Linked DNA regions of Homo sapiens: regions 2, 3, 4, 5 and 6 are each linked to region 1. The links come from fine-mapping of genetic effects on gene expression. A gene starts in region 1. Each other region holds a variant in brackets. All regions are shown on one strand. Distances are between the middles of the regions.

Evidence for each region.
Region 2: its variant is fine-mapped to the expression of SLC35E2B in whole blood (TOPMed, PIP above 0.99).
Region 3: its variant is fine-mapped to the expression of SLC35E2B in monocytes (Schmiedel 2018, PIP 0.95).
Region 4: its variant is fine-mapped to the expression of SLC35E2B in whole blood (TOPMed, PIP above 0.99).
Region 5: its variant is fine-mapped to the expression of SLC35E2B in ileum (GTEx, PIP 0.99).
Region 6: its variant is fine-mapped to the expression of SLC35E2B in whole blood (INTERVAL, PIP above 0.99).

The regions. Positions count from the first base shown.
Region 1 is chr1:1,690,614-1,695,681 of GRCh38, forward strand. It overlaps SLC35E2B (solute carrier family 35 member E2B), which reads right to left and starts at 2,182. Exons shown (of 10, transcript NM_001290264.2): 1 at 1,836-2,182; 2 at 363-780. RefSeq lists an enhancer at 1,717-2,011 and silencers at 1,846-2,005, 2,576-2,655.
Region 2 is chr1:1,168,124-1,173,191 of GRCh38, forward strand. It overlaps MIR200BHG (MIR200B, MIR200A and MIR429 host gene), which reads left to right. Exons shown (of 2, transcript XR_007065348.1): 2 at 1-2,215. MIR429 (microRNA 429) reads left to right here and starts at 882; the gene lies at 882-964. It overlaps TTLL10-AS1 (TTLL10 antisense RNA 1), which reads right to left. Exons shown (of 2, transcript NR_173246.1): 2 at 4,933-5,068. RefSeq lists an enhancer at 2,683-3,250. The variant A/G (reference allele first, on the strand shown) is at 2,609.
Region 3 is chr1:1,629,468-1,634,535 of GRCh38, forward strand. MIB2 (MIB E3 ubiquitin protein ligase 2) reads left to right here. Exons shown (of 20, transcript NM_001170687.4): 18 at 1-99; 19 at 172-237; 20 at 825-1,138. The coding sequence ends at 1,063. It overlaps MMP23B (matrix metallopeptidase 23B), which reads left to right and starts at 2,706. Exons shown (of 8, transcript NM_006983.2): 1 at 2,706-2,907; 2 at 3,316-3,446; 3 at 3,514-3,653; 4 at 3,721-3,888; 5 at 4,281-4,445; 6 at 4,522-4,632; 7 at 4,735-4,861; 8 at 4,984-5,068. The coding sequence starts at 2,752. It overlaps LOC124903821 (a long non-coding RNA gene), which reads right to left and starts at 2,319. Exons shown (of 3, transcript XR_007065352.1): 1 at 2,178-2,319; 2 at 1-1,108. RefSeq lists enhancers at 749-1,312, 3,413-4,224 and silencers at 760-1,009, 1,110-1,259. The variant T/C (reference allele first, on the strand shown) is at 2,243.
Region 4 is chr1:1,772,417-1,777,484 of GRCh38, forward strand. All of the region lies in intron 1 of NADK (NAD kinase), which reads right to left. Among named protein-coding and RNA genes, the nearest start is that of NADK, 3.5 kb to the right of the region's middle. RefSeq lists an enhancer at 1,692-2,193. The variant T/C (reference allele first, on the strand shown) is at 2,281.
Region 5 is chr1:2,285,791-2,290,858 of GRCh38, forward strand. All of the region lies in intron 1 of SKI (SKI proto-oncogene), which reads left to right. Among named protein-coding and RNA genes, the nearest start is that of SKI, 60 kb to the left of the region's middle. The variant C/G (reference allele first, on the strand shown) is at 2,086.
Region 6 is chr1:1,654,414-1,659,481 of GRCh38, forward strand. It overlaps CDK11B (cyclin dependent kinase 11B), which reads right to left and starts at 4,591. Exons shown (of 20, transcript NM_033486.3): 1 at 4,501-4,591; 2 at 2,962-3,085; 3 at 956-1,071. The coding sequence starts at 3,072. RefSeq lists enhancers at 4,434-5,068, 4,588-4,677, 4,698-4,977. The variant G/T (reference allele first, on the strand shown) is at 2,096.

The sequences.
Region 1 (5,068 bases):
CTGTAATCCCAGCCACGCAGGAGGCTGAGGCAGCAGAATCACTTGAACCTGGGAGGCGGAGGTTGCAGTGAGCTGAGACTGCGCCTGCTCCAGCCTGGGTGACACAGCAAGACTCCGTCTCAAAAAGTAAAGAAAAAAAAAAAACAAAACAACATATTTCACAGAGAAGAATTTATGTTTTTGGAGAAGGAGTTTCGCTCCTGTCGCCCAGGCTGGAGTGCAGTGGTGAGATATCAGCTCACTGCAACCTCAACCTCCCAGGTTCAAGCGATTCACAGAGGACAATTTCTAAAAGGCAAATAAGAAGCAGGAAGGGTGCATGCTCCTTCTCTACTGCCCTGTAACAGTCATTCCACACTTACCACCTCAAAACAACAAATGCTTTTGATGTTGGCTCCTGTGGGGCAGCAATCTGCGGGAAGCTTAGCCAGGCACCTCTGGCTTAAGGTCCCTCCTGAAGCTGCAGTCACACCATGGACCAGGGCTGTGACCTCATCCGAAGGCTCAACTGGGGCTGAGGCCCACCTCTGAGCTCACTCAGGTGGACGCTGGCTGGGTTCAGTTCCTTGCTGGCTATAGGTGGAAAGGGCCCCCACCAGTTTCTTGCCAGCTTCTCCACAGGACGCCCCACAGCCTGACAGGAGCTTTCATCCAGCAAGCTCATCAGGGAGTGGGAGAGAGCAGCCAGGACAGGAGCCCAGACCTTTCTGAACCTCATCTCAGAAGTGACATCCTTCCCTTCTGCTGTCTGGGCACAGCTCCCCGGGTGGAGCCCGAGGACTAGAAGGAAAAGAAAACTTGGATTTAAAATGGGATAAAGCCATAGGAGCTGCTCGTCCCACCACAGGAATCTCAACGCCGGGTTACTGACAAAGCGTCACTTTGCACCTCGTCCAACTGTGCAGACCTCTCCTAGCCAGGCCCCTGCACCAGAGGTTAAGAATCCGTGCCCCTGGTCAGGAAGTCCAGGTGGGTTCAAACGGCCAGCAGGGAATTTCAGGCAAAATGTGTCCCAAATCTTCAAACCATGCCCCAGAACTCAGACCTCCCCCTGGGAGTTCGTCCCAAGGAAACCACCTGCAAGAGGCTCAGGCTGCAGGGGACACTCCGCTTCCAAAACCCGGAAGCTGGAGACCACACAAGTGCCCAACGCCAAAGGCACCCCGTGGAGGGACGCCCTGTGCCCTCCCCCGACCAGGTGACCCGCTGCGCCCTACACATCTTCACCAGGAAACATCTGTTATCGATGTGGACGAAGCGCAGCCTGCACTCCCAGATCCGCTCATTTTCGTTCTGCCCTCCGTTTTACGATTCGCCTACACTGAAAATGCGTGAGTGGAGTGGAAAGCCTTCCTACTCCTGCCTCAGCGACCCCTTCTAAAATACTGCCTCGTTTGGCCTGAAAATGTGATTTGCAGGCTTCCTGAGCAAAGTAGATTTCACTCCATTAAAGAAAAAAAAAAAGAAAAGGCACCGAACGGGGCTCGGCTGTCGGGAGTTTTGCTTTAGTTTTTTGCGTGTTTTGTTTTGTGTTTTTTTGTTGTTGTTGTTCTTTTTGCGGCCACGCACACCGCGTTCCCAGGCTTCAGGGCGTGGGGGTCGCCGTGGACTCCCGGACGTGAAAACGCTTAAAGCCAGCTGGGAAAACCCCACCAGCGTTTTCCGCGCACAGCGCCAGCCATAGGAAAGGACCCCCAGGAGCGAATCCGGGCAGGGAAACCCCGGACGCCCGCACACTCAGCATCAGTACCGGCACCCAGCACCCAGCACCGAGCACCGAGCACGCAGCACCCAGCACCGATCACCGAGCAGAGCACCCCGCACGCAGAACCCACCGAGAGCCTGATGCAGTCTCCGCCGCAGGCATAGCGCTAGGCCCCGGCGCCTTCACAACAAAGGGACGCTGGCGGGCGGGGCCTGAGAGGCGCGCGGTGGAGGGGCCGGGCGCGAGGCCGCGGAGACAGCTCGGAGCTCGGCACTGGGGAGTGGCACAGCGCTGGCGGATCCAGGTGGGCTTCACGGGGCGCCCGCGGGACCGGAAATGACGCGCAGAACCCTGCATCGGGCTCCTCGCTGCCCCGCGGGCGCCGCTCCTCAGTGCCCCAGAGCCACGGAGCCGGGGAAACGCGCCGCGGCCCACAACGCCCCCGCGGCTGCCCGTTGGTTCCGCCCGGGCCGTTCTACTCCAGGCAGACGGGAGGAGAAACACGGCGCGCTCAGCGTCCCCTCCCCCGTTGGTTCTGCTCGGGCCCTTCCACTGCAGGCCGACGGGGGTGGAAACACGCAGTTTTTTTTTTTTTTTTAAGGTCTAGGGTAACACGGGGCTTTTAAGTGCCTCTCCGCTGCCGCCTGGTGGTCCAGCCCGGGCCGTTGCAGTGCAGCCACACGGGGAGGGACACGGCGCGCCGAGTGCTCCGGGCGGCCGCACGTTGGTTCCGCCCGGGCCGTTCCACTGCAGGCAGAGGGAGAGGACGACGGTGCGCGTAGTGCATCCCCGTGGCCCGTTGGTTCCGCCGGGGCCGTTCCACTGAAGGCAGAAGGGGGGGGACCGTGGCCCCACCCCCCGCGGCAGCCCGTTGGTTCCGCCCGGGCGGTTCCGCCCGGGCTGTTCCACCAGCGGCACTTCAGGGCGGGATCGGCCAGTCTGTGGAGGCAGCGGCCTCTAAGCCCCGGAGGGTTTACTGCCCAGGTTTGGGTTCCAGGAATAAGAAATCCACTGAATAGGCTTAACTTAGAAGACACAAAGGCGCCTCCTGGCGGAAGTGGCCACGCTCCGCCCAGCCTGAGGGAAAGCTGCTCTGACAGCTGGGCCCGGAGCTGCGGGGGGCGGGGCCGCCGCGCGGGGTGAGGACTCGCCTCAGGGCGCTGATTGGCTGGTGGCGCGCTCCGGGGCGGGGCCTTCGTATCCAGGCTGGCGTCGGGGCTGCCGCGGGACATCCGGAGCAGACACCCGCGGGCGCGCCTGCGGCCCCGAGGACCCCCGGCTCCGGAGCTTCGTCGAGCGTTTTCCTAGCGTTACTTTCCCAAATAATTTTCAGGAATGAAGTTACGGCTAAAGGGCTCTTTAGAGATTACTTTTGGGCCGGGCCCGGTGGCTCACGCCTGTAATCTCAACACTTTGGGAGGCCGAGGCCGGCGCATCACGAGGTCAGGAGCTTGAGACCAGCCTGGTATGGCCAACGTGGTAAAACGTCGTCTCTACTAAAAATACAAAAATTGGCCGGGCGTGGTGGCGGGCGCCTGTAATCCCAGCTACTCCGGAGGCTGAGGAAGGAGGATCACCTGAACCCGGGAGGCGGAGGTTGCAGTGAGCCGAGATGGCGCCACTGCACTCCAGCCTGGCGACAGAGCGAGACTCCCTGTCAAAAGAAAAAAGAAAAGATTACTTTTGGCCGGGCGAGGTGGCTCACGTCTGTAATCCCAGCATTTTGAGAGGCTGAGGCGGGCGGATCGCCTGAGGTCAGGAGTTCGAGACCAGCCTGGCCAACATAGTGAACCCCCCCCCATCTCTACTAAAAATACAAAAAAAAATTACCCGGGTCTCGTGGCGCGTGCCTGTGGTCCCCGCTACTCGGGAGGTTGAGGCAGGAGAATCGCTTGAACCTTGGAGTTGAAGGTTGCAGTGAGGCGAGATAGCGCCGCTGCTCTCCGACCTGGGCGACAGTGGGAGACTTCATCTCATAAATAAATAAATAAATAAATATTACTTTTACGTTTTGTTAAACTTCCACTTGTTTTTGTTTCCGTTGCATGAACCTTCGTAAAGCTTCAGGAGGCTGATGGCAGCCTCCTTCCCCAGGCTTCCCCGTGGCGCCCGCAGCCGGGTTGGGCCAGAGGCTGGGACTGTTTCCTCCCGTGGGGTCTTTGGTGGGGATGTCCCCAGAGGAGTGGGGCAGGAGGAGGGGCACGGAGCGCCCCCGGGAGCCGGTCAGAGCGCAGCGATGGTGTCTGTGGTTCCAACCACTCGGGAGGCTGAGGTGGGAGGATGGCTTGAGCCTGGGAGCTTGAGGCTGCAGTGAGCTAGAATCACAGCACCACACTCCAGCCTGGGCGACAGAGTGAGACCCTTGTCTCACAAAAAAAAAAAAAAAAAAAAAAAAAAAAAAAAAAAGGCTGGGTGCGTTGGCTCGCGCCTGTAATCCCAGCACTTTGGGTGGCCGAGGCGGGCGGATCACGAGGTCAGGAGATCGAGACCATCCTGGCTAACACGATGAAACCCCGTCTCTACAAAAAATACGAAAAAAAATTAGCCGGGCATGGTGGCACGTGCCTGTAATCCCAGCTACTTGGGAGGCTGAGGCAGGAGAATCACTTGAACTCAGGAGGCAGAGCTTGCAGTGAGCCAAGATTGGGCCACTGCACTCCAGCCTGGCGACAGAGTGAGACTCCGTCAAAAAAAAAAAAAAAAAAAAAAGGAAGAAAGAAAATTATAAAATGAAGTGAAATTAACGCAGTGGAGTGCCACCTGCCTGCTGCCTGAGTTCACTATCCACACGGAGTTCATAAATTTGAGAGCAGTTTACAAAGTAGATTCTCCTACTTTCCAGGAAACCCAGAAATGTCTGGTGATTTGCCCAACAGTCTCAGCTGTTGTGGTCAGCAGGGCCGCTGTGGTATCCAAATGATTTCAAAAGCAGATTTATAAAAAGTACTCCTTTTTTTTTTGAGATGGAATTTCGCTCTCATCGCCCAGGTTGGAGTGCAGTGGCACGATCTCAGCTCACTGCAACCTCCGCCTCCCGGGTTCAAGTGATTCTCCTGCCTCAGCCTCCTGAGTAGCTGGGATTACAGATGTGTGCCCTCACGCCCAGCTAATTTTTATATTTTTAGTAGAGACAGGGTTTCACCATGTTGGCCAAGATGTTCTCCATCTCCTGACCTTGTGATCTGCCCGCTTCAGCCTCCCAAAGTGCTGGGATTACAGGCGTGAGCTACCCCACGCCCGGCCTTTATTTTTTTTTGAGACGGAGTCTCACTCTGTCGCCCAGGCTGGAGTGCAGTGGCGCGATCTCGGCTCACTGCAAGCTCCACCTCCCAGGTTCAAGAGATTCTTCTGCCTCAGCCTCCC
Region 2 (5,068 bases), 520 kb before region 1:
GCTGAGCGGGCGGCAGAGGGCCTGTGTCAGCTCCGAAGTCCAGCCCCCAGGGGAGGGGCCGGCCTCTGCCGGGGGTGCCCCCGGGGTCACTCACGCCCAGGCTGGGTCTGACACCTTGAGGACCCCTTGGTGCCTCCACAGGTGGCCTGGAGGGCATCCTGCTCCCCCTCCCGGAGCCGCTGTGCCTCCCCCACCCAACCTCCCAGGCTGGGTTTTAGGGTGACCTGGCTCCAGGAAAGGCCATAGGGCTGGGATGCCAGGGCTGGAGAGGGAAGAGCAACAGTGGCCTCTCTCACGTGGTCCGGGCTCCGTGGAGGGTCTGCTGGGGGCGCAGGAAGGACAAGGTGGGTTCAGATTCCCGAGCCCCACCATGCAGGGGAGCGGGGACGCTCTGCGCTTGCCCTCTGAGGGACAAGGGGTCTCATTCCTTCCCCCAGTCAACAAGAACAGGAACTTTGTCCAAAACCCACCAGGCCAGGATGACCCATTGTTTCATCTTTTCCATCTGCAACCAGGGCGCCTGGGACCGCACCCCCACACAAGGCCCCAGCCTGGGGAGGGGGCAGCCACCGGGGAGAGGCTGCCCTTCACTGTTACTCATTAACCCGACCGAGCTTCAGGAAGCCAGCGAGGGGCTGCAGGGAACCTTTGCCAAGAGCAGGGCCTGGGTGACCAGGTGGCTCCCGGGTACCCCCACACAGCCAGGCTGGGCTGGGACCAGGTGCTGGGATGGGGGCTGTCAGGGAAGTGCCTCGGGGGCTCGTTCTGCAGACCCAGGAGGGATCAGGGCAGCTGCAGGAGGTGGCAGGAGCCGCCCCCGGGGCCTTCCCTTCACAGGCCCCGCAGACACCAGCCCAGGACCCGGAGGCCACCCACACCACCGCCGGCCGATGGGCGTCTTACCAGACATGGTTAGACCTGGCCCTCTGTCTAATACTGTCTGGTAAAACCGTCCATCCGCTGCCTGATCACCGTTAGAGGAGAGAGCTGCCTGCCCTGCAGCTCATCAGTGCAAAGCCGCCCGGTCTGGGGCTCTCATGCCCCCCTCACTATGGCCTGTGCCCATCCGCAGCCCATCAGTGCAAAGCCGCCGGGGTCTGGGGCTCTTGTGCCCCACCCTCGCCATGGCCTGTGCCCACCCGGCCTCCTGGGGCCCTCGAGCTGTAGTCCCCGGGCAGATGCTGTGGACCCCGTGCTATCAGCCTGGCCCCTGGGGTCACAGTCACAGATACCCGGAGCCCCACCCCACAGCCCCAGCCCCCTCGCCACCTGGGGAGGCTGAGACAGAAGCAGCTGGGCCCCCCAAAGTGCCTGAGCCCAGGGCACGGAGGAGCACAAATGCCCAGCAGGGACAATGTCACAGCGTCTCAGCGGCCAGGCAGCAGGACGCAGAGACCTCTGGGAGGTTCCCGGGGCCAGCCCTGGCCCTCCTCCTCCAGGGGCCAGCCGTGGGATGCAGACCACACTCTCCCTCCAGGGCCCATCTCTGGGGCTGAGGCGGGCGGGGCCGGTGCCCAGCTGCAAGACCATGGGATAGGGAAGGCAGGTGCTTGGGGCCACGCAGCCCTGCACTGGGGGCCCCTCCACCCCAGGCGGCTCACGAGGTGTCATCTGGAGCTGTCCCCAAGCCGGGATCTGCAGGTTGACCTCCCCCACCCGGGGCTATCTCCAGACCCTCTTTCCTCCCTGGGGAGATGGGGCAGTCCCCCGCAGGGCCAGCTGAAACCACCCCCATGCTGCTGCCGCCTGAGCGACGTGTGTGGGGAAGAACTTGGAGTGCCACCCCCAGAATGTGGCGTCCACCTCACCAGACCGCACGGGTGAGCCCTGGACTGCAAGGTGCATATAACACAAGGTTTGGACACACCTGGAGAGCTCGGGCCAGGCAGGGCCACACCTGTGAGCCTGAGCTCATCCAACACCGCCCGGAGCTCGGGGACCTTCCCCATCCCAGCACCTCCTCACCGCTGTGCCCGTCTGGCCAGTCCCTCCAAGCACCCCTCGGATGAAGTTGCGCCCCACACTGCAGTGGGGCTCACTCTCCACAGCGCCTGCTGCGTTGCACGGGGTGTGACAGGAAGGACCCTGCTGGGGCTGGCGGGGCCGTACCCAGAGCCTCCCTGTGCGGTTTCTCCTCCTCCTCCTCCTCTCCATAAGCACCGGGAACAAAACAGAAAAAAGTCTTTGTATAGTAATAAAGTCTGCAGTTCACGCACCCATGCTTGGACCAGCTCCTTATTTTAACCACACGTGCACAGACCCCCGCCGTGCAAAGGGCCCAGCTGAGGACAGAACCCCAGACACTGCATCCGGCCCCGGAGGCCCCCAAGGTTCCTGGGAGAGGCTCCCTCCCTCCCTTCCCTCCTCTTTCCCTCCCCCTCCTCCTTCCTCTCCTCCATCCCTCCTTCCCCCTCCTCCCTCCTCCTCCTCTCTCCGTCCCTCCCTCCCTCCTTCTTTTGCTCAGGAATCTTCCCTGACTCTCCTGTGGTCAGCTCAGGTCAAGGTTCTGGGGGAAGGGGGAGTCCCTGAGTGGAGACACCTCAGCCTGTGCTGAAGGGAGCTACCGAGGGGGCAGCCGGTGGCCCTGGGGGGCCTCTCTGAGCAGGTG[A/G]CCAAGAGCGTATGGTGCCGGCCAGCAGGAGCGAGGGCTGCGGACAGGATGGAGGCAGCCAGGCGCCAGCCAGGAGGGCTTCCTGGTCCAGCCACACCTGCCCCGGTGACAGCCACAGGTTGGTGGCAAAGGGGCCACCTCCCTTCCAGTGGCAGGGCCTGGCCTGCCTGGAGACCCCACCCACTGCCCGAGAGGTGCCAGGCCTCCCCCATTCTGCCTGGCCCTGGGGGCTGCACCCACCTGGACACGCGGGCCGGGCACACCCACGGCCCAAGGTCCTGCTCCCACCTGCCCTGCGCAGGAACCTTGCTGGGGCTACAGGTATCCGTGGCTGCCACACCACCCAGATTTTGGGATTAAGGGGCAGAGTTTTCAAGTTTGAACTCAGGAAAGCTGTGAGGGACGAGGTAGTGCCTGGCTGGGGAGCCTGGGGGCTTCTGAGGGCGGTGGGGAGTCCTCAGGCCTGTGTGGGGCCCCAGGGAGGGGAGGCTGCAGGGGTTGGGGGACCTGCCCGCTGCACCCCCTCTCCCCCCACACAAGGAAACCCGTCCTCCGAGGTGTGTGTCCAGATCACATCCTCCAAAGGCCGGTGCGCCACAAAGATGAACACGGGGCTCTCCCTCCCAGCCCAGGGGCAAGGACCCTGCCTTGCTCTGTTCCCGGAAGGGCCAGTTCTGGAGAGGAGCTGGGCGAGTCCTTCCCATCCCCATCAGCTCCTGTCAGGCCACCTGCCTCAGCCTCAGGGAGGAGGGGACACACGTAGGCCCCTTCCCAGAGTCAGAGCTTCCGAACCCGGATCTGCTGCTCCCAGCCTGGAGAGCCACAGCAGCCACCGAAGGAACCCCCCACCCGTCACCCCCACCAAGTGGGCCCTGCTCCCCGAAGGCCCAGCCACTCAGCCCAGGACCTGCCCCAGCCCCACCTGCCACCTGACCTGAGGCTCCCAGAGGGCAGAGGGGCCTCCTGGGTCTGCTCCGCACCAGGGTCCAGCGGGACCATCTCAAAGCTTGAGCACCAGGCGCAAGGTGGGAGTGCGGGGAGGGGACGAGGACACTGTTCCCAGCTGGACAGAACCAGGAGGACGGTGGGAGACGCCCCCCACCGCCCCGCTTCCGAGAGCTCTCTCTTCCTTCCAGGGACTCCCCAGGGACAGCCGGGGCCCCTTCTTCCCCCACAGCTCAGGCCCCAGGGACACAGAGCGGGGAACCCCCAGGCTGCCGCCCCGGCGTGGGTCGGGGAGGCGGCTCCGGAGCGGGCACCACACTCTCGAAAGGGTGGCTTCTCCTCCCGGCTGCTGAAAAACCACACAGGCAGGCACAACAACAGACGCTTACGCCCGCATCTGGAGGCCAGAACTCCAAAGCCACAGGGCAGGCAGGGCTGCACCCCTCTGGGGGCTCCAGGAGAGGACCCTGTCTGCCTCCCCAGCCCCTGCCAGCTCAGGCATCAGTGGCTGTGGCCGTGTCACCCATCTCTGCCCCCCAGTCCCACGGCGTCTCCCCCACGTCTGCGTCTCCTCTCTCCACCTCCCTCTCAGGGGGGCAGAGGCCATTGATTCAGGGCCTGCCCTGGGTGATGTCACTAGAGATCCTGACGTAACCCCACCTGCAAAGCCCCTTCTTCTAAATAAGGTCACATTCGAGGTTTCAGGGCTATGATGTGGTTGTCTTTTGGGGGCACCACCAGCCCCCTGCAAGGGGACCCTAAGCACAGAGGCCCTCGTGACCCACGCAAAGCTCTGAAGGACACGGATGGGTAGGGGACACGTGGCTGGAGGCTCAGAGTTTGAGGCAGAGGGGATCAGACCGTGCCATGGGTCATGCCAGGAGCCCAGGACTCCCAGACCTCGTATCATTAGGTGTTTTAAAGAGAAGGCGAGGGCAGGCCAGGCGCAGTGACTCACGCCTGTAATCCCAGCACTTTGGGAGGCCGAGGCGGGCGGATCACCTGAGGTCAGGAGTTCAAGAGCAGCCTGGCCAACATGATGAAACCCTCTAAAATTAATAATAAATTAATAATAAAATAATTATAATAATATAGAAAATAATATATAAAATAATAAATATATAAAATATAAAACAAAATAAAAATAAAAAATAAAATTAATATTAAAAATACAAAAATTAGCTGGGCACTGTGGTGGGCACCTGTAATCCCAGCTACTCGGGAGGCTGAGGCAGGAGAATTGCTTGATCCTGGGAGGCGGAGGTTGCAGTGAGCCGAGACCGTACCATTGCACTCCAGCCTGGGCAAAAGAGTGAGACTCCGTATTTTGAAAAAAAAAAAAGAGAGAATGTGAGGGTTAAACAAAGACACACAGAGATGGAGAAAGGGCAGCCTTACATCAACACGGGTACATTGCAAACACCTGCAGAGGTGGGGGACCAGCTGGATGCCAGAGCCCACTGCCGCCTACGGGCTGGGGTGCCTATAGGTATGGGTGGGAGCGGCCCGGGCCAC
Region 3 (5,068 bases), 61 kb before region 1:
GCGCCGCGCCGGGGCCCGAGGCCGCTGAGTGCCTGGTGTGCTCCGAGCTGGCGCTGCTGGTGCTGTTCTCGCCGTGCCAGCACCGCACCGTGTGTGAGGGTGAGTGGGGGGCCCCGGGGTGGGGAGGCCCGGCTAGTAGGGCCGCAGCCAACCGCGCTCTCCTCTTCGCAGAGTGCGCGCGCAGGATGAAGAAGTGCATCAGGTGCCAGGTGGTCGTCAGCAAGAAACTGCGCCCAGGTGGGTGAGGCTCTGCGCCCCCAACACGCCTCCTGCTCAGCTGGTGGCCCGCGGGTCCCCGTCCCCCACCCCTTCCCTCCCACACTTCCGCCCATGGCCCTTCCCCAGGTTACACCCCGCCCTCCCAAGGCTCACACCCGGCCCCCCAGCCCCCAGCCCCCAGCCCCGCCTGCTCCAGATCACACCCGGCCCACAGCCCCGCCTCAAGGTAACACCCTCCTCCCCCATCACACCCCAGCCCCGCTGGATTTCACGGCCCCTCCCAGATCACACTCCCTCCATAGCCCCACCCCAGATCACAGCCCACCCAGAGCACCGCCCCCCCATCACACCCCGGCCCAGCTCACAGCCCACCTGCAGCCCTGACTCCAGCCCGCACACCACCTTATGCCTGATTTCCACGGCTCACCTCCTGCCCGCACCCGGGCCCCACCTCTGCCTCCAAATCACCCACCCCGCCAGCCCCCCTTGCAGGTCACAACCCGTCCCAGGTGACACCCCGCCCCCAGCCTCGCCCCCCCGCAGCTCCCTGCTCCCCGCATTCCCCCACCCGGCCTCCCAGCTCACACCCGTCCCCCACCCCGCAGACGGCTCTGAGGTGGCGAGCGCCGCCCCCGCCCCCGGCCCGCCGCGCCAGCTGGTGGAGGAGCTGCAGAGCCGCTACCGGCAGATGGAGGAACGCATCACCTGCCCCATCTGCATCGACAGCCACATCCGCCTCGTGTTCCAGTGCGGCCACGGCGCATGCGCCCCCTGCGGCTCCGCGCTCAGCGCCTGCCCCATCTGCCGCCAGCCCATCCGCGACCGCATCCAGATCTTCGTGTGAGCCGCGCCGTCCGCCGCGCCCGAGCTGCCTTCGCGTGCCCCCGCCCTGTGTTTTATAAAAAGAAAGATTCTCGGACGTTGCCTCTGCTGTCTGCCTGGGGGACCGGGCGCCTCTGGGGTCCTCCCCTCGGGACACGCGGGCGAGCCTGGGGGCGAGGGGGGGGGGGCCCTTCCCTGGGTCCGCCCCGCCCGCCCCAGGCTCTCGGGTCCAGACTCCCGCCCGGACTGCGGCCTTCGGGCCAGGACACCCTCCAGGCGCGGGCACGGCCGCCTCCCGCCCCCCAGGCCCGGGTCCGACGGGGCGGGGACTCCTGTGTCTGCCCCCGGGCCCCCCTCGCTCTTCCGTCCTGGGGGCGGCCGCGGGGACTCGCGCTCTGATCCAAGGGGCCCGACACTCCCCAGGGCTGTGGGGTCCCGTCCCAGCAGGGAGTTAGTTGGGGGGCGTCCCAGGCAGGGTCTGGGGGCCGGGCGCACGCAGGCGGGGTGACGAGCTGGGGGGGCGGGGGGCGGTGTCGGAGCAAATACGGCGGCCAGGCCCAGCCTCTCGCGCTTTCCAAGAACCGCCCGCGGCCGCCGCCAGCTGCTTGGCGCTGACCCCGTTGGCCGGGCTGCCGTCACCCTGGGCCCGACGCCGGCGCGGAAAACGGGGAGGGACGAGACAGACACAGGCCGGTCTGGCTCGGAATCTCCTGCTCCTCTGCCCAATCCCCCACCCCCGCCCCGCGGGACGCCGGTGCCCGGTCTCGGTCCCAGCCCAGAGCCGCTCGCGCCTGGACGCCGGCCGCCCCGTCGAACCTTTGGGTCTCCGAGCTCCCCGCCCCCGCCCCCAATCAGGACCGGTCCAGACCTCCAGGCCCGGCGCTTAGCTCCGTTTCCCGTCCCTCCCGTCTCCCTCTCCCCTTTGCTGGGGCCTAGCCGGGGATTTAGGAGCCACACACCCTCCACCTCACGCGCTACCCTCCACGGGGCTTCCCGCAGCCAGGGCCCGCCCCTTCCCGGCTCCCCGGGAGACCCTGGCAAGTTCCCTCCCTCCGCCCCGCAACCTGGCACCCTCCGCGGCCCTTGCCTACCCACGCACCCCCTCCCCGCCTCCCCCTCCACCGCCCCATACTCACTGCCACGTCCCCATCCGGCCATCCCCTCCCAGCTCTCGGGGACACTGTCAGGCGAGCGACGCGTC[T/C]CCTGCGGCCCAGCTCAGCTGCCTGGGCCAGGATGGAGACTCCGCTCATGTGGGGCTCAGGGGTTTTTTGAGGATTCCATTTGGGAAAAAAGCCACCAGATCACTCACTGCCCAGCAGTGGGGGCTTGGGGACCCCCACTGCTACCCTTTCCTAAGCGGGAGCCCTGGCGCTGCCCTTCCCGGGCTGCCTGGGGCCCTCTTCGCTCCCCCCTCCGAGGACCCCGCCCAGCAGGCCATGCCCAGGCCTCTGCCCCTGGCCCACGGGACGCGGGTCCCCATGCCCCCGGCTGGAGACAGCAGGCAGCTCGGCCAACGGACGGGCCAGCTGGTTCCCTTCAGGGGCAGCCTTGCCCCCTCTCCCGCCCCGTCTCCCTCCCCCCCACCACACCGGGCTGTAACCCGAGCCGCCGAGCCACTGCCTCCCCTCCGGATCCTCCCCGGAGGCTCTGCGGCCCGGGCCCCCGCGCCTTGCTGCCCCATGCAGCCCTGAGCCCCACAGCAAGTCTGCCATGGGCCGCGGGGCCCGTGTCCCCTCGGAGGCCCCGGGGGCAGGCGTCGAGCGCCGCTGGCTTGGAGCCGCGCTGGTCGCCCTGTGCCTCCTCCCCGCGCTGGTGCTGCTGGCCCGGCTGGGGGCCCCGGCGGTGCCGGCCTGGAGCGCAGCGCAGGTGAGCGGCGGGGGGGAGGCCAGGTGCCGGGTTGGGGGGGTCCTCACGTCTGTGGGTCTGGTCTATCGGGGGGCCCGCAGGACGTGTGCGGGGTGTGCGGGGTGTTTGAGGGTCCGGATGTGCGTCCCGAGGTCGGAGGGTTGGACGCCCCTGTGTCCAGTTGTTGGGAGGGGTGGGAGGCCTCGCCCTGCTGTTCAGCCCCTTCCCCTCCACTGGGCCGCGTTCCCAGGGACGTGCAACAGGGCGCTCAGGTTAGGAGACCCGAAACCACAGGCAGACAGGACCCGCCACGCCCGCTCCCAGCCCTGGGCACCCCCACCCCCGTTTCCTTCCAGTCCATTTTCCGCGGCAGTTTTTGGTCCTGGGGACCGTCACCGATGCCTCCCACGCACGCTTTCTTCCCTGAAGGGAGACGTCGCTGCGCTGGGCCTCTCGGCGGTCCCCCCCACCCGGGTCCCGGGCCCACTGGCCCCCCGCAGACGCCGCTACACGCTGACTCCAGCCAGGCTGCGCTGGGACCACTTCAACCTCACCTACAGGTGCGCCCTGGCTGGGCCCCGGGGGAGGGGGCGCGGCCGGCGCCCGCTGAGCTCACTCTCCCTGCAGGATCCTCTCCTTCCCGCGGAACCTGCTGAGCCCGCGGGAGACGCGGCGGGCCCTAGCTGCCGCCTTCCGCATGTGGAGCGACGTGTCCCCCTTCAGCTTCCGCGAGGTGGCCCCCGAGCAGCCCAGCGACCTCCGGATAGGTGGGCGCCCGCCCCCGCCCCGGCCCGGCCCTGCGCGCCCGGCCTCTCAGCCCCGTGCTCCCCCCAGGCTTCTACCCGATCAACCACACGGACTGCCTGGTCTCCGCGCTGCACCACTGCTTCGACGGCCCCACGGGGGAGCTGGCCCACGCCTTCTTCCCCCCGCACGGCGGCATCCACTTCGACGACAGCGAGTACTGGGTCCTGGGCCCCACGCGCTACAGCTGGAAGAAAGGTGACCGTCCAGGCTGGCCTCCTGGAGGCCTCTCCTCTGCAGCACAGTGGGCTGCCGCGGTCGGGCTTTGGGGCAGACGGCAGGAGGGACCTTCCGGGGTGGTGGCTGCCACTGGAGTCTAGCAGGCAAGGAGGGGAGCCCGTGGGAGCCCCCATCCCGGCAGCCCTGAACTCCCTTTCCCATCCCCCTGCGCCTCTGGAGCGGGAGCTGGAGCTGCATTCCTGGGGGCCGAGCTCACCGCCTGGGCCCAGAACATTCTTATCTTTCCGTGGCTGCGGCCGAGGGCGGCTCCGCGGCTGCGCTCCAGCAGATACACCGGGCCTCGGGGAGCTGGCCCACGGGCGGCGGGGCTGGGCCCGGGGCTCCCAGGCGCTGACCCCCGGGGCCCGCAGGCGTGTGGCTCACGGACCTGGTGCACGTGGCGGCCCACGAGATCGGCCACGCGCTGGGCCTGATGCACTCACAACACGGCCGGGCGCTCATGCACCTGAACGCCACGCTGCGCGGCTGGAAGGCGTTGTCCCAGGACGAGCTGTGGGGGCTGCACCGGCTCTACGGTGAGTCCCTTTGTCGGGCGGGAGGGCGGGGACCGGGCGGTCCTGAGCCAGGCCGTGCTCCCCACGCTCCCGATAGGATGCCTCGACAGGCTGTTCGTGTGCGCGTCCTGGGCGCGGAGGGGCTTCTGCGACGCTCGCCGGCGGCTCATGAAGAGGCTCTGCCCCAGCAGCTGCGACTTCTGCTACGGTGATGCCCACGGGGCCGGGACAGGGCTGCGTGGGAGCTGGGCCTTGGCCATGGTCGGGGCTGAGGGGGCACTGACGGGGCTCTTTCCCCCACCCGGAGCAGAATTCCCCTTCCCCACGGTGGCCACCACCCCACCGCCCCCCAGGACCAAAACCAGGCTGGTGCCCGAGGGCAGGAACGTGACCTTCCGCTGCGGCCAGAAGATCCTCCACAAGAAAGGGAAAGTGTAGTGAGTGAGCGCCCCGGGCGGTCCTCGGGGTGGGCAGCCCGCGGGCGGCCTTGGGGCAGGGGTGCGGGGCAGGCAGCCGGGGGGGGGGCTGTGCCTGCAGGAGACGCCCCGCCCCCCTGCAGCTGGTACAAGGACCAGGAGCCCCTGGAGTTCTCCTACCCCGGCTACCTGGCCCTGGGCGAGGCGCACCTGAGCATCATCGCCAAC
Region 4 (5,068 bases), 82 kb after region 1:
GCATCATAATGTGCTTGGATTACAGGCATGAGCCACTGTGCCTAGCCAAAACACTGTTAAGAAAATTAAAATACAGTTGGGTGTGGTGGCTTGTGCCTGTAATCCCAGCACTTTGGGAGGCCGAGGCGGGAGGATCGCTTGAGTCCAGGAGTTCAAGACCAGTTCTGTGTCTTGCTAGTGGTTATATAATTAATTTAAGAGGTAACACTGCATAGAGCCATACACACATGTAAAACTGGTGAAACCTGAATAAGGTCTATAGTTTAGTTAGCAGTATTTCAATTCCCTGGTTTTGATATTGTACTATGGAGGTGTATGGAGGTGTAAGATGTTAACACAAGGGCCGGGCATGGTGGCTCATGCCTGTAATCCCAGCACTTTCGGAGGCCAAGGCGGGCGGATCACCTGAGGTCAGGAGTTTGAGACCAGCCTGACCAACATGCAGAAACCGCGTTTCTACTAAAAATACAAAAAATCAGCCCGGCGTGGTGGCGCATGCCTGTAATCCCAGCCACTCGGGAGGCTGAGGCAGGAGAATCACTTGAACCTGGGAGGGGGAGGTTGCGGTGAGCTGAGATCACGCCATTGCACTCCAGCCTGGGCAACAAGAGCCAAACTCCATCTCAAAAAAAAAAAAAAAAAGATGTTAACACAGAGGGAGCTGGTGAAGGGCACAGGGGTCTCTCTGTACTATTTTTACAACTTCCTATGAATTAGTCTATGATTATTTTTTTTTTCCCCAGACGAAGTCTCGCTCTTGTCCCCCATGTTGGAGTGCAATGGCGCAATCTTGGCTCACTGCAACATCTGCCTCCAGGGTTCAAGCAATTCTCCTGCCTCAGCCTCCTGAGTAGCTGGGATTACAGGTGCCCGCCGCCACACCCGGCTAATTTTTGTATTTTAAGTAGAGATGGGGTTTCACCATGTTGACCAGGTTGGTCCTCAAACTCCTGACCTCAGGTGATCCGCCCGCCTCGGCCTCCCAAAGTGCTGGGATTACAGGTGTGAGCCACCGCACCCAGCCAATTATTTCAAAATAAACAGTTAATAAAGGTCAGACACAGTGGCTCACACTTGTAATCCCAGCACTTTGGGAGGCCGAAGCAGGGGAATCACCTGAAGCCAGGAATTGGAGACCAGCCTGGGCAACACAGCAAGACCCCGTCTCTACAAAAACATTAATAAAAAATAAACAAATCAAAATCACAAAATGTTAAAAAAAATGTATTATTACTGCTACATTACCTAGAAGCTCTATTTTGTGTGTGTGTGTGTGTGTGTGTGTGTGTGTGTGTGTGTGTGTGTGTGTGTGTGAGAGAGAGAGAGAAATAGAGATATTGAGAGACTGAGAGGTAGGGTCTTGCTCTGTCACCTAAGCTGGAGTGCAGTGGTGCAATTACAGCTTACTGCAGCCTCAATCTCCCAGGCTTAAGGGATCCTCCCATGTAGCTGAGACTACAGGCATGAGCCACTATGTCCAGCTAATTTTTAAATTTTTTGTAGAGACAGGGTCTCGCTACCTTGAACGGGCTGACCTTGAACTCCTGGGCTCTGGTGGCCCTCCTGTGTTGACCTCCCAAAGCATTGGGATTACAGGCATGAGCCACTGCACCCAGCCTAGAAGCTCTGTTCATATTTATTTGCGAAGATCAATTTGATGACTAAGCAGTAAACTAATTTATAAAATAATATTAAATATTAAAACCAACTTTAAACAATTATCTTCACCTATGTATGTGTGTGTGTGTATATATATACACACACACACACACATATATATATATTTAACAAGTATCTCCAATACCACAACCAGTGTATTTTTTGTTTTTTTGAGATGGAGCTTCGCTGATGTTGTCCAGGCTGGAGTGCAGTGGCGCGATCTCGGCTCACCGCAAACTCTGCCTCCCAGGTTCAAGCAATTCTCCTGCCTCAGCTTCCCAAGTAGCTGGGACTACAGGTGTGCGCCACCACGCCCAGCTAATTTTGTATTTTTAGTGGAGACCTGCCTCTTAATTCTCCAACATGGAGGGGTTTCTCCATGTTGGTCAGGCTGGTCTCAAACTCTCAACCTCAGATGATCCGCCCGCCTTGGCCTCCCAAAGTGCTGGGATTGCAGGCGTCGCCACCGCGCACGGCCACCATTATGCCTCGGCCTCCCACAGTGCTGGGATTACGGGCGTGGCCACTGCGCGCGGCCACCATTGTGCCTCGGCCTCCCACAGTGCTGGGATTGCAGGCGTGGCCACCGTGCGCGGTCACCACTGTATTTTTTGACAAGGG[T/C]GAGTCAGGACTGACACTTAATTCATTTGTTTGATATATTAACTGCTTTAAAAGGACACACAATGCTAGCTGCACCAAAGTGCATTCAAATTCCTCATAGCATGAATCTAATTTTAAAAAACCTTTGTAGGGCGGGCATGGTGGCTCACGACTGTAATCCCAGCATTTTGGGAGGCCGAGGCGGGCAGATCACGACATCAGGAGTTCAACACCAGCCTGGCCAAGATGGTGAAACTCCGTCTCTACTAAAAATACAAAAAAAATTAGCTGGGCGCGGTGGCAGGCGCCTGTCATCCCAGCTACTCAGGAGGCCGAGGCAGGAGAATCGCTTGAACCCAGGCGGCAGAGGTTGCAGTGAGCTGAGATCACGCCACTGCCCTCCAGCCTGGGGGACAGAGTGAGACTCCGCCTCAAAGAAAAAAAAAAAATCCTCTGTATTAGGAAGTTTTATTAGAAAAAAATACTAGAGCACAATAAGAAAATATTCATAACGAACTTATACAAAGTAGCAAGGAAAACATTAAGATGCCAATAAATAAATGTGCAAAGAACATGAACAAAAGTCACACACACACAAATACAAACATAATACACGAGTTCGTTCCCATGTAAGAACTCAATCAATATTTGTTGCAAGACTAAATGAAAAAGGAAAATTTATTTAGTGACAGAAATGGGGAAACATTCAACCTCAACCCTGAGTGGGAAAAAACTTACTGCCCACTAAATTACCCATCTCATCTCACCCCGGTAAATAATGCCCAGTGCTGGCATGCACACTGGCAGTATACAAACTGAGAAAGACTTTCTGGAAAGTGCTACAGCCATGTGACCACAGGGCTTCACCCTGTGACCTCATTAAACCTAAGCAGATTACAGGTCTGAAGGGGGCTTTCTTTAGATGTGGCTCCACCTACTTAGGGGCAGATGAAGAAAACAGGGGTCTGGGCAGTTCTGAATGGGAAGGCCAGGCATCACCTCCCTCTTCAGTTGCACAAAGTGTGCGTGGCATCCTCACATCCCATCTGCCTCAATTTCGCTTTTTCTCTGAACACTTTTCACCATCTGTCTGAAGCACACACACACATTTTATTCACTTCCCCATTCCCATGCATGAATGCTAGGACCTTTGCAATTGTGGGCCAGGAAAGATTGCAAATGATAAGCCACCAGCACAGAGAGTAGAAATGAAATCCTGGGGTTACAAGCTAAAGCATTACTGACACCCACTTGTCCAGAACGGCTGAAGCTGGGCGGTGACTGTCAACAGGTATATACGGACTAGAAAGTGGAGCTGCTGGAGGAGGCCCTGTACCTTCCTGCCATGACACAGCCTCCCCCCAAGTGCTGGGCTTGTGTGCTCAACACTCCCTCTTGCTGTCATCCTACCACACCTGCAGACTGGAGGTAATCCAGATGCAAGGCCGTCGAGTCCCGCAAACACCCACCTGCCTCTTAATTTTCCAAGTGAGACCTACATTTCCTCAAGCGTGAAGCTCAATAAAATCAACTATTGTTTTCCGTTTTCATCACGAGCGCCACTTTCCCCCTATTTGTTCACCGCCTCCACTCCACAAGAACTGCTCTTGACTTGGCCAACTTTCTGGGACACCCTCACTACAAGGATTTATGAGTCAAACAGGTTTTTGTGCTAGCCTGGAAATCTAACTGCTGACAGCAGTTGTTTCAAGAAGAAAATGCTGTTTTGGAACCAAACAGCAGGCTGCCAACTGAAACAACATAAACCCACCTCCAAGTTCAAATGAAACAAACAAACAAAAAGACTGGTCCAAGTGAGGCAAGCTGTGGTGGCTCACACCTGTAATCCCAGCACTTTGGGAGGCCAAGGTGGGCTGATCACGAGGTCAGGAGTTCGAGACAAGCCTGGCCAACACAGTGAAACCCGTCTCTACTAAAAATACAAAAATTAGCTGAGCGTGGTGGTGGGCGCCTGTAATCCCAGCTACTCAGGAGGCTGAGGCAGGAAAATCACTTGAACCCGGGAGGTGGAGGTTGCAGTGAGCCGAGATTGTGCCACTGCACTCCAGCCTGGGCAACAGAGCTAGACTCTGTCTTAAAAAAAAAAAAAAAAAAAAAAGACTGGTCAAAGTGGCTTACGTCTGTAAGATCAGCACTTTGGGAAGTGGAGGCAGGAGGATCTCTTGAGGCCAGGAGGTTGAGACTAGCCTGGACAACACAGTGAGACTCTATCTCTACAAAAAATTTTATAAATCAGCTAGGTGTGGTGGTGCAGGCCTGTAATCCCAGCTACTCAGGAGGCTGAGGTGGGAGGATCAATTGAGCCCAGGAATTTGAGGTTACAGTGAGCTATAATCATGCCACCATAAACACGCCTGGAGGACAGAGTGAGGCCCTGTTTCTAACATACACACACATATACACACAGAAACATCTCGAGAGGACACCTCCAAATGATGAAGCTATTTTGTTGGGTACTGCGGTGGCACCTGTGATTCCTCAAGTAGCTTGGAATCAGCGTGCTAACACCATAAAGTGGCTGCAAAAGTCCCAGTGAAGTCACTGCTGAGAGCAAACAGGCCTTACAGAGAAGTTCCAAGGGGACAGGAAATTTCCAGAGGCTTGAGAGGACAATGTTCAGGGGAATAAGTACTTGAAGGGAATTATCTAACAAGGTGTTAAAGTAACTAGCTTCTTAGACAAGATGACATCAGGAGGAAAAAAAAACTTATTAAGGCAAACATGTCAGTTTCAGGCCAACTAAGGCTGTCAGAGAGACATGGAACACAAGAAGAGAAGAGTTTTGAAA
Region 5 (5,068 bases), 600 kb after region 1:
CCTGACCTCACATGATCTGCTCATCTGGACCTCCTAAAGTGCTGGGATTACAGGCGTGAGCCACCGCACCAGCCAGAAGGTTTTTTTTTTTTTTTTTTTTTGAAACGGAGTCTCGCACTGTTGCCCAGGCTGGAGCACAGTGGCACGATCTCGGCTCACTGCAAGCTCTGCCTCCCCGGTTCACGCCATTCTCCTGCCTCAGCCTCCCGAGTAGCTGGGACTACAGGCACGCACTGCCACACCCGGCTAATTTTTGTATTTTTAGTAGAGATGGGGTTTCACCACATTGGCCAGGCTAGTCTTGAACTCCTGACCTCGTCGTCCACCCACCTTGGCCTCCCAAAGTGCTGGGATTACAGGCATGGGCCACCACGCCCAGCCTACTGTTCATCTTTACCTTGTGTAATGCCAGTTTAAGACGCAAATGCAGGTCGGGTGCAGTGGCTCACTCCTGTCATTCCAGTGCTTTGGAAGGACAAGGTGGGCAGATCACTTGAGCCCAGGAGACCAGCCTGGGCAACATGGAGAAACCCCATCTCTACAAAAATACAAAAATTAGCTGGGTGTGGTAGTGTGCCTGTAGGCCCAGCTACTCTAGAGGCTGAGAGGGGAGGATCACTTGAGCAGCCTGGGAGGCAGAGATTGCAGTGAACTATGATGATGCTACCGCACTCAGCCTGGGTGACAGAGTGAGACCTTGTCTCTTTAAAAAATCATAAAATGCAAATGTAAGAGTGTTTAACTTGTGGAATCATCAAAATTGCACAGTTCTTGATTTGAACCCCAAATATAATAATTAAAGTGCGTGTGCATTTTATTCTTACCACATCAGGGCAAACGCTGCCCAAAATGAACCTGGCTGTTGGAGTTCGCTTAACTCACCCATGTGGCCACGCAGCTCTCGCTCTGAGTGAGGACAGACTGCGTGTGGGGGCTGTGGGCGCCTGTCTCCCTCCCTCCCAAGGCTCCGGTCGTGGGCTAGTGGGAGAAAGTGACTGGGTGGGACCAACGCGACCTCCTCCACTGGACGCTCTTTACACGGGCTGGGAATGGCAGTGGGCTTGCATGTGGCGTGTGCCACCTCTGCTCATGCATGCTCTGTGGTCACGGAGAACTTTGCTTATAAAAGAACATCTTATCAAAGGTGAAACTGTTCAGAATGCCAATGATGGGGACAGAGCGTTAAGCCCAGGACATGGCTGCGTGCCCACAAAGCCAGCTCTGGATGGAAAAGTAACGAGTGGAGGGCGTTTTCTTCCCAGACCCGGTGGTCCAGCCGTGAGTGTCCAGCTGCAGGCCCCACAGCAGCCAGCTCTGGGCGAAAATCTAGAGGGCCCCTGCGCACCCTCCCGCCCGGGGTGCCCTGGCCCAGGGTGCACCTGTGCTCTGGACCCTGGGCCGTGCGGGGCTCCAGGGCGCCTGGAGACTGCCATTTTGTGTGGGAAGGTGGAGGCGACTTGGGAATGCGTTTCTTTAGATTTTAAAGATGAGAGAGTGTTGGCCTTGGACAGGAAAAATTCCAATTTGGTGAGAAATGGAAATATCCAATTTTTTTTTTTTTTTTGAGACTGAGTCTGGCTCTGTCGCCCAGGCTGGAGGGCAGTGGCGCGATCTCGGCTCACTGCAAGCTCCGCCTCCCGGGTTCACGCCATTCTCCTGCCTCAGCCTCCCGAGTAGCTGGGACTACAGGTGCCCGCCACCACGCCCAGCTAATTTTTTGTATTTTTAGTAGAGACGGGGTTTCACTGTGTTAGCCAGGATGGATAATGTCCAAATGTTTTATCCAAGTCCAAATAGCAGTGTTGGTGGTAGGTGTGCTCTGCCTGTGGGTGGGGGTGGTCTCTGTCTCAAGGTGGGCTACGAGGGTCTGCCGCAGGGGGGGTGTGGACGGGTCTTGCATGCGTCACCTTCCCTGTGTGGGGCGTGGGGGTGGTCTCCCCCTAGAAGGACAGGGCTTGTGGCAGCCGTGAGATGGATGGATTCCCAGGGATCTCCCCTCACCTTGGGGGATGAGCCCAGGCTCCTTTCTGGGGTCTCCAGTGTGTCCCCGATGGACCAGCTTCCTGCATGGCACCGCCCTCCGGC[C/G]CCACCCCGAGCCCTGAGCCCCGCCTTGAGCCCTGGGCGCTCCTGGCCCTGGCCTGGCACTCAAGGGCTGCTTTCAGGGCTGTTTCTCGTCTGTCTTTTTTCTTTTCTTTCTTTTTTTTTTTTCTTCCTTGAGACGGAGTTTCACTCTTGTTGCCCAGGCTGGACTGCAATGGCACGATCTCGGCTCACCCCAACCTCCACCTCCCGGGTTCAAGTGATTCTCCTGCCTCAGCCTCCCAAGTAGCTGGGATCACAGGCGTGTGCCACCACGCCTGGCTAATTTTTGTATTTAGTAGAGATGGGGTTTCTCCACATGGGCCAGGCTGGTCTCGAACTTCTGACCTCAGGTGATCCACCCGCCTCAGCCTCCCAAATAGCTGGGATTACAGGTGTGCACCACCATTCCCAGCTAATTTTTGTATTTTTAGTAGAGACAGGGTTTCTCCACATGGGCCAGGCTGGTCTCTAACTCCTAACCTCAGGTGATCTACCTGACTTGGTCTCCCAAAGTGCTGAGATTACAGGCATGAGCCACTGTGCCCAGCAGGGCTGTTTACTTAAAGGTACATGTTCCGATCCCTGAATTCGGTTTTATTTTGAGGTTAGGAGTGAGAACACGATTGGTTGTCGTCGTTTCCTGTGGGAGTGGCTCTTTTCAGAGGCAGACAGTTGTCTTTGCTCGTGCGTGCACATTTGTTTGCATGCGCGTGAGACCCCCAGGTGGTTTTGCTCTGGGAGTCGTGGGATGTGTTCTCTGCTCCCTTCCCTTGTCCTGAGTGGCCTTGGTTGGCCACAGAGTCAGCTGGCAGTGGCTGTCTGTGGGTCACCTCCACACATGGATGAAACTAGCCTGAGGTGGGCTGTTGTTGGCCTGCTGGCATTTTTGGGGTCATGGCAGTGCCCTCAGGCTGGTGATAGTGGGGGTGGGGACCTTGTCTCAGGTACCAAGTTCGTCTTCATCCTTTGATCCCCTCTTCCAAAAACTACCCCCTCCCCCCGCCACGTGTGTGAGGCCTGCAGTGGTGTGCACAGAAGCCACCCTTGGGCCTGCTGGGTGACAGGTCCCCTCCAGGTGACGGGAGCTGCCTCGCTCTTCCTGCAGGTCCCCGGTGCCGCCTGGTTTTCCCGAATCGCATGCACCTGTCACTGAGCTGTCAGTGTGGTCAGCTTGCTGCACCCACCCGGGAAGTGGAGCTGGGGGAAGGTCATGTTCTGCAGGAGACCTGGTGGCTCAGGCCCTCAGGACCCAGCTGCCCCTCCCCGAGGAGCAGTGGTTGGTGAGAAAGCACACAGAAGGCAGAGGCTAGAGATGCAGCTCCTCTGTTATGTTGAGCCTCTCTAGGCAGGGAGCTCAGAGACCCGGAGGTGGCCCTCCTGCCTCCTCTCTGTCAGGACTTGACACCTGTCTCAGTGGCCATGGCTGTTTGTCTTCATCCCTCTTCGGTGAGGGTGGCAGGCGGCCAGATGCCCATTACAGGCCACCTCTCCTGCCAGCCAGTCTTCGAGGGCTGGTCACCACGTGGCCACTTTGTGAGGCCCCTCCTCTAAGATCAAATGTGGCACTGCAGAGCTACACCAACCCCGAGCCCCGCGCAGGGCAGGGCAGGAGAACCAAGATCGTGGGGGTGGGGGGGTGCAGGGCAGGGCAGGAGAACCAAGATCGGGGTGGGGGTGCAGGGCAGGGCAGGAGAACCAAGATCGTGGGGGTGGGGGGGTGCAGGGCAGGGCAGGAGAACCAAGATCGTGGGGGTGGGGGTGCAGCACAGGTCGTGCTCCCGGGGCTGGCTGTAGCGGCTCTCCCCTCCCCCGAGCCCACCGTGTGCTTCTTGTCCAGCCTTTTGAGATGACCACAGCTCTCAGTTTGGCCCCACAGCAGCATCTGGGTTGACGTCCCTGATGAGGTTTGGAAACAGCAGAGAAGGGGTTGTCCTCTTCCACCAAGAGCCTGGCTGGCCTGGCCTCCCTCTGGGCAGCACCTGGCTGGGCTGACTGGGCAGAGGGAAGGGGTGGCCTGGCCAGGGTGAGCATGGGGTGCTTGCCACTCCACAGAGGGGGTGCAGGAGGCGCCTCCAGGCCACGTTGCTCCAGGACATGCCACCTCCACAGCCCCCTCCTTGGAGTCTTTCCTCAAGGTCTTAGGATGGCTGTTTGTGCCCTAGCACAGAGACCCTTGCCCTCTTGTGTGGCGCCGGGGGTCCCTGTTGGTCAGGGATGTTCCTAGAGTGGGGAGGGAGTCGGTAAGGCAAGGGTGATGTTGGTTGTAAGGGGTGGAGTCCTTGGTCTTAAGAGATCAGGCAGGGCAGCCCTGGGCTGCCCCCGGCAGAGCCTTTGCCCCAGGCAAGTCCCGGGGCTCCTGGGAAGAGGCTACTTCTCAGCCTCTTGAGAGGGCCTCCAGGGCACAGGCAGGGAGCAGCTGTGAGGGTGTGGCTGTGATGGGGACTCTTGACTGCAGTGTGGATGTGAGCTGATTGGGGGTAGGCCAGCCTTCTGTGCGGGACACTTGGGAACTGAGGGGACACAGCCGCCACCCTGCACTGCTCAGCCTGAGCACCTCTCTGGCTGTTTGGTGCTGCACGTGTTTCTGGGCATCTGAGATGAGGCCCCAGGGCCTTTGCTTCCAGACACCAGGGGAGAGAGACCAGCCCCAGAACAACAGTTGGCGGGTGGGCTGGGGTCGTCAGAGCTTCTGACCTCATCAGGGGCTCCCCCAGAGTTTTCTGTGCGCTGCCGTGTGTCTGGGCCAGCGCTGGGGGCAAGCGATGCCTTCTGTGGTTTGAGGTCTTGTAGGCAGGAGGAGGAGGAGGAAGAGGGCACCTGCTGAGATACTTCACTGGTCTGAGGGCCCCTTCTGCCCCAGCTAGCGCTTGGGTGAGGGTTGGGCTTGCGGAGCCGTCCTGTAAAGCCGGGGATGGCAGGACGCATTGTCACCCCCTCCTGCCGCTCTTACGAAACACTCTTAATTGAGTCCGATTCTTGGTGAATC
Region 6 (5,068 bases), 36 kb before region 1:
ATGGCAGGAAAACTCATTTAGTTTTTCTCATCTTCTTTTTTTTATTTTGTGTAGAGACGAGGTCTCCCTGTGTTGCCCAGGCTGGTCTTGAACTCCTGGGCTGAAGTGATCTGCCTGCCTCGGCCTCCCAAAGTGCTGGGATTACAGGCGTGAGCTGCCGCGTCCGGCCAATATGAACATTTCTCATCAGCGGCCCTCCTCAGGTATCTTTCAGCATTCTACTTTATTTGTGCAAAATCTTTTTTTTCCTTTTTTTTTTTTTAGAGGCGGGGTCTTGCTCTGTCGCCCAGGCTGGGGTGCAGTGACATGATCTTGTCTCACTGCAAGCTCCACCTCCTGGGTTCACGCCATTCTCTTGCCTCAGCCTCCCGAGTAGCTGGGACTAAAGGCGCCTGCCACCACGCCCGGCTAATTTTCTGTATTTTTAGTAGAGACGGGGTTTCACTGTGTTAGCCAGGATGGTCTTGATCTTCTGACCTTGTGATCCGCCCACCTCGGCCTCCCAAAGTGCTGGGATTACAGGCGTGAGCCACCGCGCCCGGCCTTTTTTTCCTTTTAAGACGGGGTTTCACCATGTTGGCTAGACTGGTCTCGAACTCCTGACCTCAGCTGATCAGCCCGCCTTGGCCTCCGAAAGTGCTGAGATTACAAGTGTGAGCCACCACACCTGGCCTGTGCAAAATCCTATATAGTATATTTTATTAATCAGTGTAACACATGGCAAAGTTCTTTACAGAAAGAAGGGGCAAGGGTCTGGAGGGCCACAGACAACACTTGAGAGTCAGTCACAACTGTGACATAAAAACCTCAATAGTTACGCTATGTCACAGTAACTCTAGGAAAGAGTAAACCTTAATAGTTACAACAGCACACAGTTGTCACAGCGACCCTAGGAAGGACCGGCCAGGCCAGGGCTGTGTACAGCTGGGTCTTGCACATCTGTACATCCGCTCACCTGTCTTCCATAGAGTCTTCTCTTCTATACGGGGAGTTCCTTATTGTGATCTCCATGCGGTGATCTCTCAGCTCCCCCTCCTCAAGGGAATCCCGCTTGGAATCCCGGTCATCAGACTAAGAAGCAAAGAGAAAGTTAATCATTTTCTTTATAAGTTTTTTTTTCTTCATAGATAAAAGTATTTTTAATGATAATCAAACCTGGGCAACATCCCAAAACAAACTTTCATATATACTCTGAATGAGCCAGTGTTATAAAATATAAAGAACTTTTGGCCGGGTGTGGTGGCTCACGCTTGTAATCCCAGCACTTTGGGAGGCCCAGGCAGGCGGATCACGAGGTCAGGAGCTCGAGACCACCCTGGACAACACAGTGAAACCCCATCTCTACTAAAAATACAAAAATTAGCTGGGCGTAGTGACCGGAACTGCTTGAACCCGGGAGGCGGACATTGCAGTGACCCGAGATCACACCACTGCACTCCAGCCTGGCGACAGAGTTAGACTCCGTATCAGGGAAAACAAACAAACAAACAAACAAACTTTAATTCAAATCTTATCACATTAAAATTACAACTCTCTGTAATCTGAAACCTGAGATGAGAAATTTAAAAATAGCATATATGACAAGGGACATTAGACTCTATGCCAAGTATGTTAGTTGCTTATATGAGCCAAAAATGAATCTTAAGGCGTATCTTGCAAACCAAATACTTTGTGATACCTCATATGGTACAGGCATCCCTTGGAGATATTTTGGGTTTGGCTCCAAAACACCACAATAAAGTGAGTCACACAGATTTTTTGGTTTCCCAACGCATATAAAAGTTTGGTTTAGGTCAGGCATGGTGGCTCACGCCTGTAATCCCAGCACTTTGGGAGGCTGGGTGAGGCAGGTGAATCACCTGAGGTCAGGAGTTCCAGACCAGCCTGACCAACAAGGTGAAAGCTCGTCTCTACTAAAAATATAAAAATTAGCCGAGCGTGCTGGCAGGTGCCTGTAGTCCCAGGTACTCAGGAGGCTGAGACAGGAGAACTGCTTGAACACAGGAGGCAGAGGTGGCAGTTAGCTGAGATCATGCCACTGCACTCCAGCCTGGGCAATGGAGCAAGACTGTCTCAAAAACAAACAAAAAAGGCC[G/T]GGCGCGGAGGCTCATGCCTGTTGTAATCCCAGCACTTTGGGAGGCCGAGGTGGGTGGATCATGAGGTCAGGAGATTAAGATCATCCTGGCTGACACCGTGAGACCCCATCTCTACTAAAAAATACAAAAAATTAGCTTGGCATGTTGGTGGGCCCCTGTAGTCCCAGCTACTTGGGAGGCTGAGGCAGGAGAATGGCGTGAACCCGGCCCTGGGCGACAGTGCGAGACTCCGTCTCAAAAACAAAAAAAAAGCTAACAAAGTGAGCACATGCTATTGGAAAAATGCTCAATGCAGAGTTGCTACAAACCTTTAATTTGGAAAAATTTCAATATCTGTGAAGCATAATAAAGTGAAGTGCAATACAACAAGGTATGCCTGTACTCACTAACATCCCAAATGATGCTGCTAAAGATCTTAGCAAAAGAGGTACTTTGCCAATGCCTCTTACCAAATTACTAAAAAGGTTTCCTGAGTACATTACCATGCAAACCAAGAAAGATGTAAAATATTTATATTAATTTCAAGGCAAGTTCCCACTATATTAAAAATACTTAGAGATAGTATTATGAACATACTAATGAACCGAGAAAAATTAGTCCAGTTTTGCTAATGACTTAACATTCAACGTATTTTATTCTCCATGTATGCTCAATCTAGACACAGCTTTAGTGTGTTAAATCTGCCTTTAATGTCAACTGAATATTTGAATGTTTTTGTTAATTTTTAGAATAGATTTTGGGCTCACCTGCGACATTTGGAAGTACAAAAGAACTTCACCGAAGAAGCGTTGTTCTAATGGAAAAATGAGGGCAAAGAAATTAAATCTCCTTTAAGAAAACCACTTACTTAAAAAATATGGCTTACATTTTTTAAGCGTTTTATCTCTGCTTTCTCCTCTTGTTCCTTCCTTCGTTTCTTTTCCTGAAGAATTTCATCTAAAGTTTTCACTTTCCAAGAGTCCTTTTCATCACCCATTTGAGTTAAAACACTGCAAAAAGAAAAATAATTCAGCCTACATCAGGACACAGCAAGCTATGGTGCTGAACACTTGAACCTAGTCACTTTTGAGGGATTCAGAATAAATCCTCATTAAGAATAAGAAGTTGTGCCCGGCGCAGTGGCTCAAGACGGTAACCCTAGCACTTTGGGAGGCCGAGGCGAGCAGATCGCTGGAGTTCCGGAGTTCAACACCAGCCCGGGCAACATGGCAAAACCTCGTCTCTACAAAAAATACAAAAGTTAGCCCAGTGTGGTGGCGCGTGCCTGTATTCCTAGCTACAGGAAGGAGGCTGCTAGAGGCAGGAGGATCACTTGAATCAGAGAGGTCAAGGCTGCAATGAGCCAAGACTGCGCCACTGCACTCCAGCCTAGATAACAAAGTAAGACTTGGTTAAAAAAAAAAAAAAAAAAAAAAAAGTAAGCTCTAGGCTGAGGCGGGTGGATCACAAGGTCAGGAGGTCAAGACCAGCCTGGCCAACACGGCGAAAACCCTGTCTCCACTAAAAATACAAAACTTAGCTGGGCGTGGTGGCGGGTGCCTGTAATCCCAGCTACTCGGGAGGCCGAGGCAGCAGAATCGCTTGAATCCGAAAGGCGGAGGTTCCGGTGAGCCGAGGTCGCGTCACTGCACTCCAGCAAGACCCCGTCTCAAAAAAAAAAGAAAAAAAAACAAGAATGATAAGTTGTAAGCCAGGCAAGGTGGCGAGCGCCTGTAGTCCCATATACTCTGCAAGCTGAGATGGGAGACCGATTGAGCCCAGGAGTTCCAGGCTGAAGTGCGCTTGTGAACAGCCACTGCGCTGCAGCATGGGCGACAAAAAAGAGTGATGGGTTCTGAAAAATGACCGCTTGAAATCAAGTCTCGTTTCTGTCATTCTTGTATGGTCTTGGGTAACGTAATTCACCTCAGTTTAGTCTTCCGTACAACCAGAATAACAACACCTACGTGATAGTATCGATCGCGGATTAAAGATCATCCGTTTAAAGGCTCTTAACTCAGGACCTGCCACTCATCAAACACTGCTTTTACTGTCAGAATCTGCTAGAAAGACCGCTTGGACTACGTGAAGCCACTAGCACACTGGACAGCTGCACCTTGAGACCGGGGAGATGCTCCGAGATGTGCTCGCGAACAAGGCCACCTGACCCGGGCACTGGGCTATTTCCTCGGGTTCAGTCCCGCACACTTGAGGTTCAGCCTGGCAGACGTTGGCTCCAGACAGCGTTTGGACCCGCCGCCTCCACCACCCAAAGTTCCGTGCGGGATGAGACTGTCCGCGGAAGCGAGGGTGTCGCTCGCCCCCGGGCCCGGGTCCGCCCCGCTCCGAGGCCTGCTCGGAAGAAAGACCTCGGTGCGCAGTTCTCCTCGCGCTCCCACACCTGGTCCGCCCAGTCGGAACTCACCCCTACGCCGCCGCCGCTGCCGCCGCCGCCGCCGCCGGTCCCGGAGCCAGAGAAGAAACAGCAACCGGCGCGCGCCAAAAGTATCGTCACTTCCTGTATTGGCGCGTAATGATGATATAATAGCCGACCTCCGGCCCAGAACTCGAGACAACGACAGGGGCTCGCTCTGTGCGGCACTTCCTGTGTCTGCGCGGGATGATAACGCATAAAACAGCGCTTGCTCAGGTCCAGGACGCCAGAAGAAACAGCCCGGTGAGCGCACTTCCGACTTCGGCGCGGGCTGTGACGCAGGAATCGGGACTCCGGAGGAGCGACGCCCACTTTTGGAGCAGTTTGCGCCTGCGCGGAACGCGTGGCCGGCTTCCGGAATCCTACCGGGACTTTTCCGGTAGCGAAGCCCGCGCCTGTGCCAAGGCTTGCGAGCAGAATGCCTTCGCGATGGACGCCCGCATTCCACCCCCTTGACCGCTGGGACCCCTAGTGGCGGGTGGGTGGAGCGCGCTCCATTTACCTGCTGGTTACCTCGTGAGGCGCCTCAGGTCTGTGTGTCTTGTAAAGGCCGATCTCG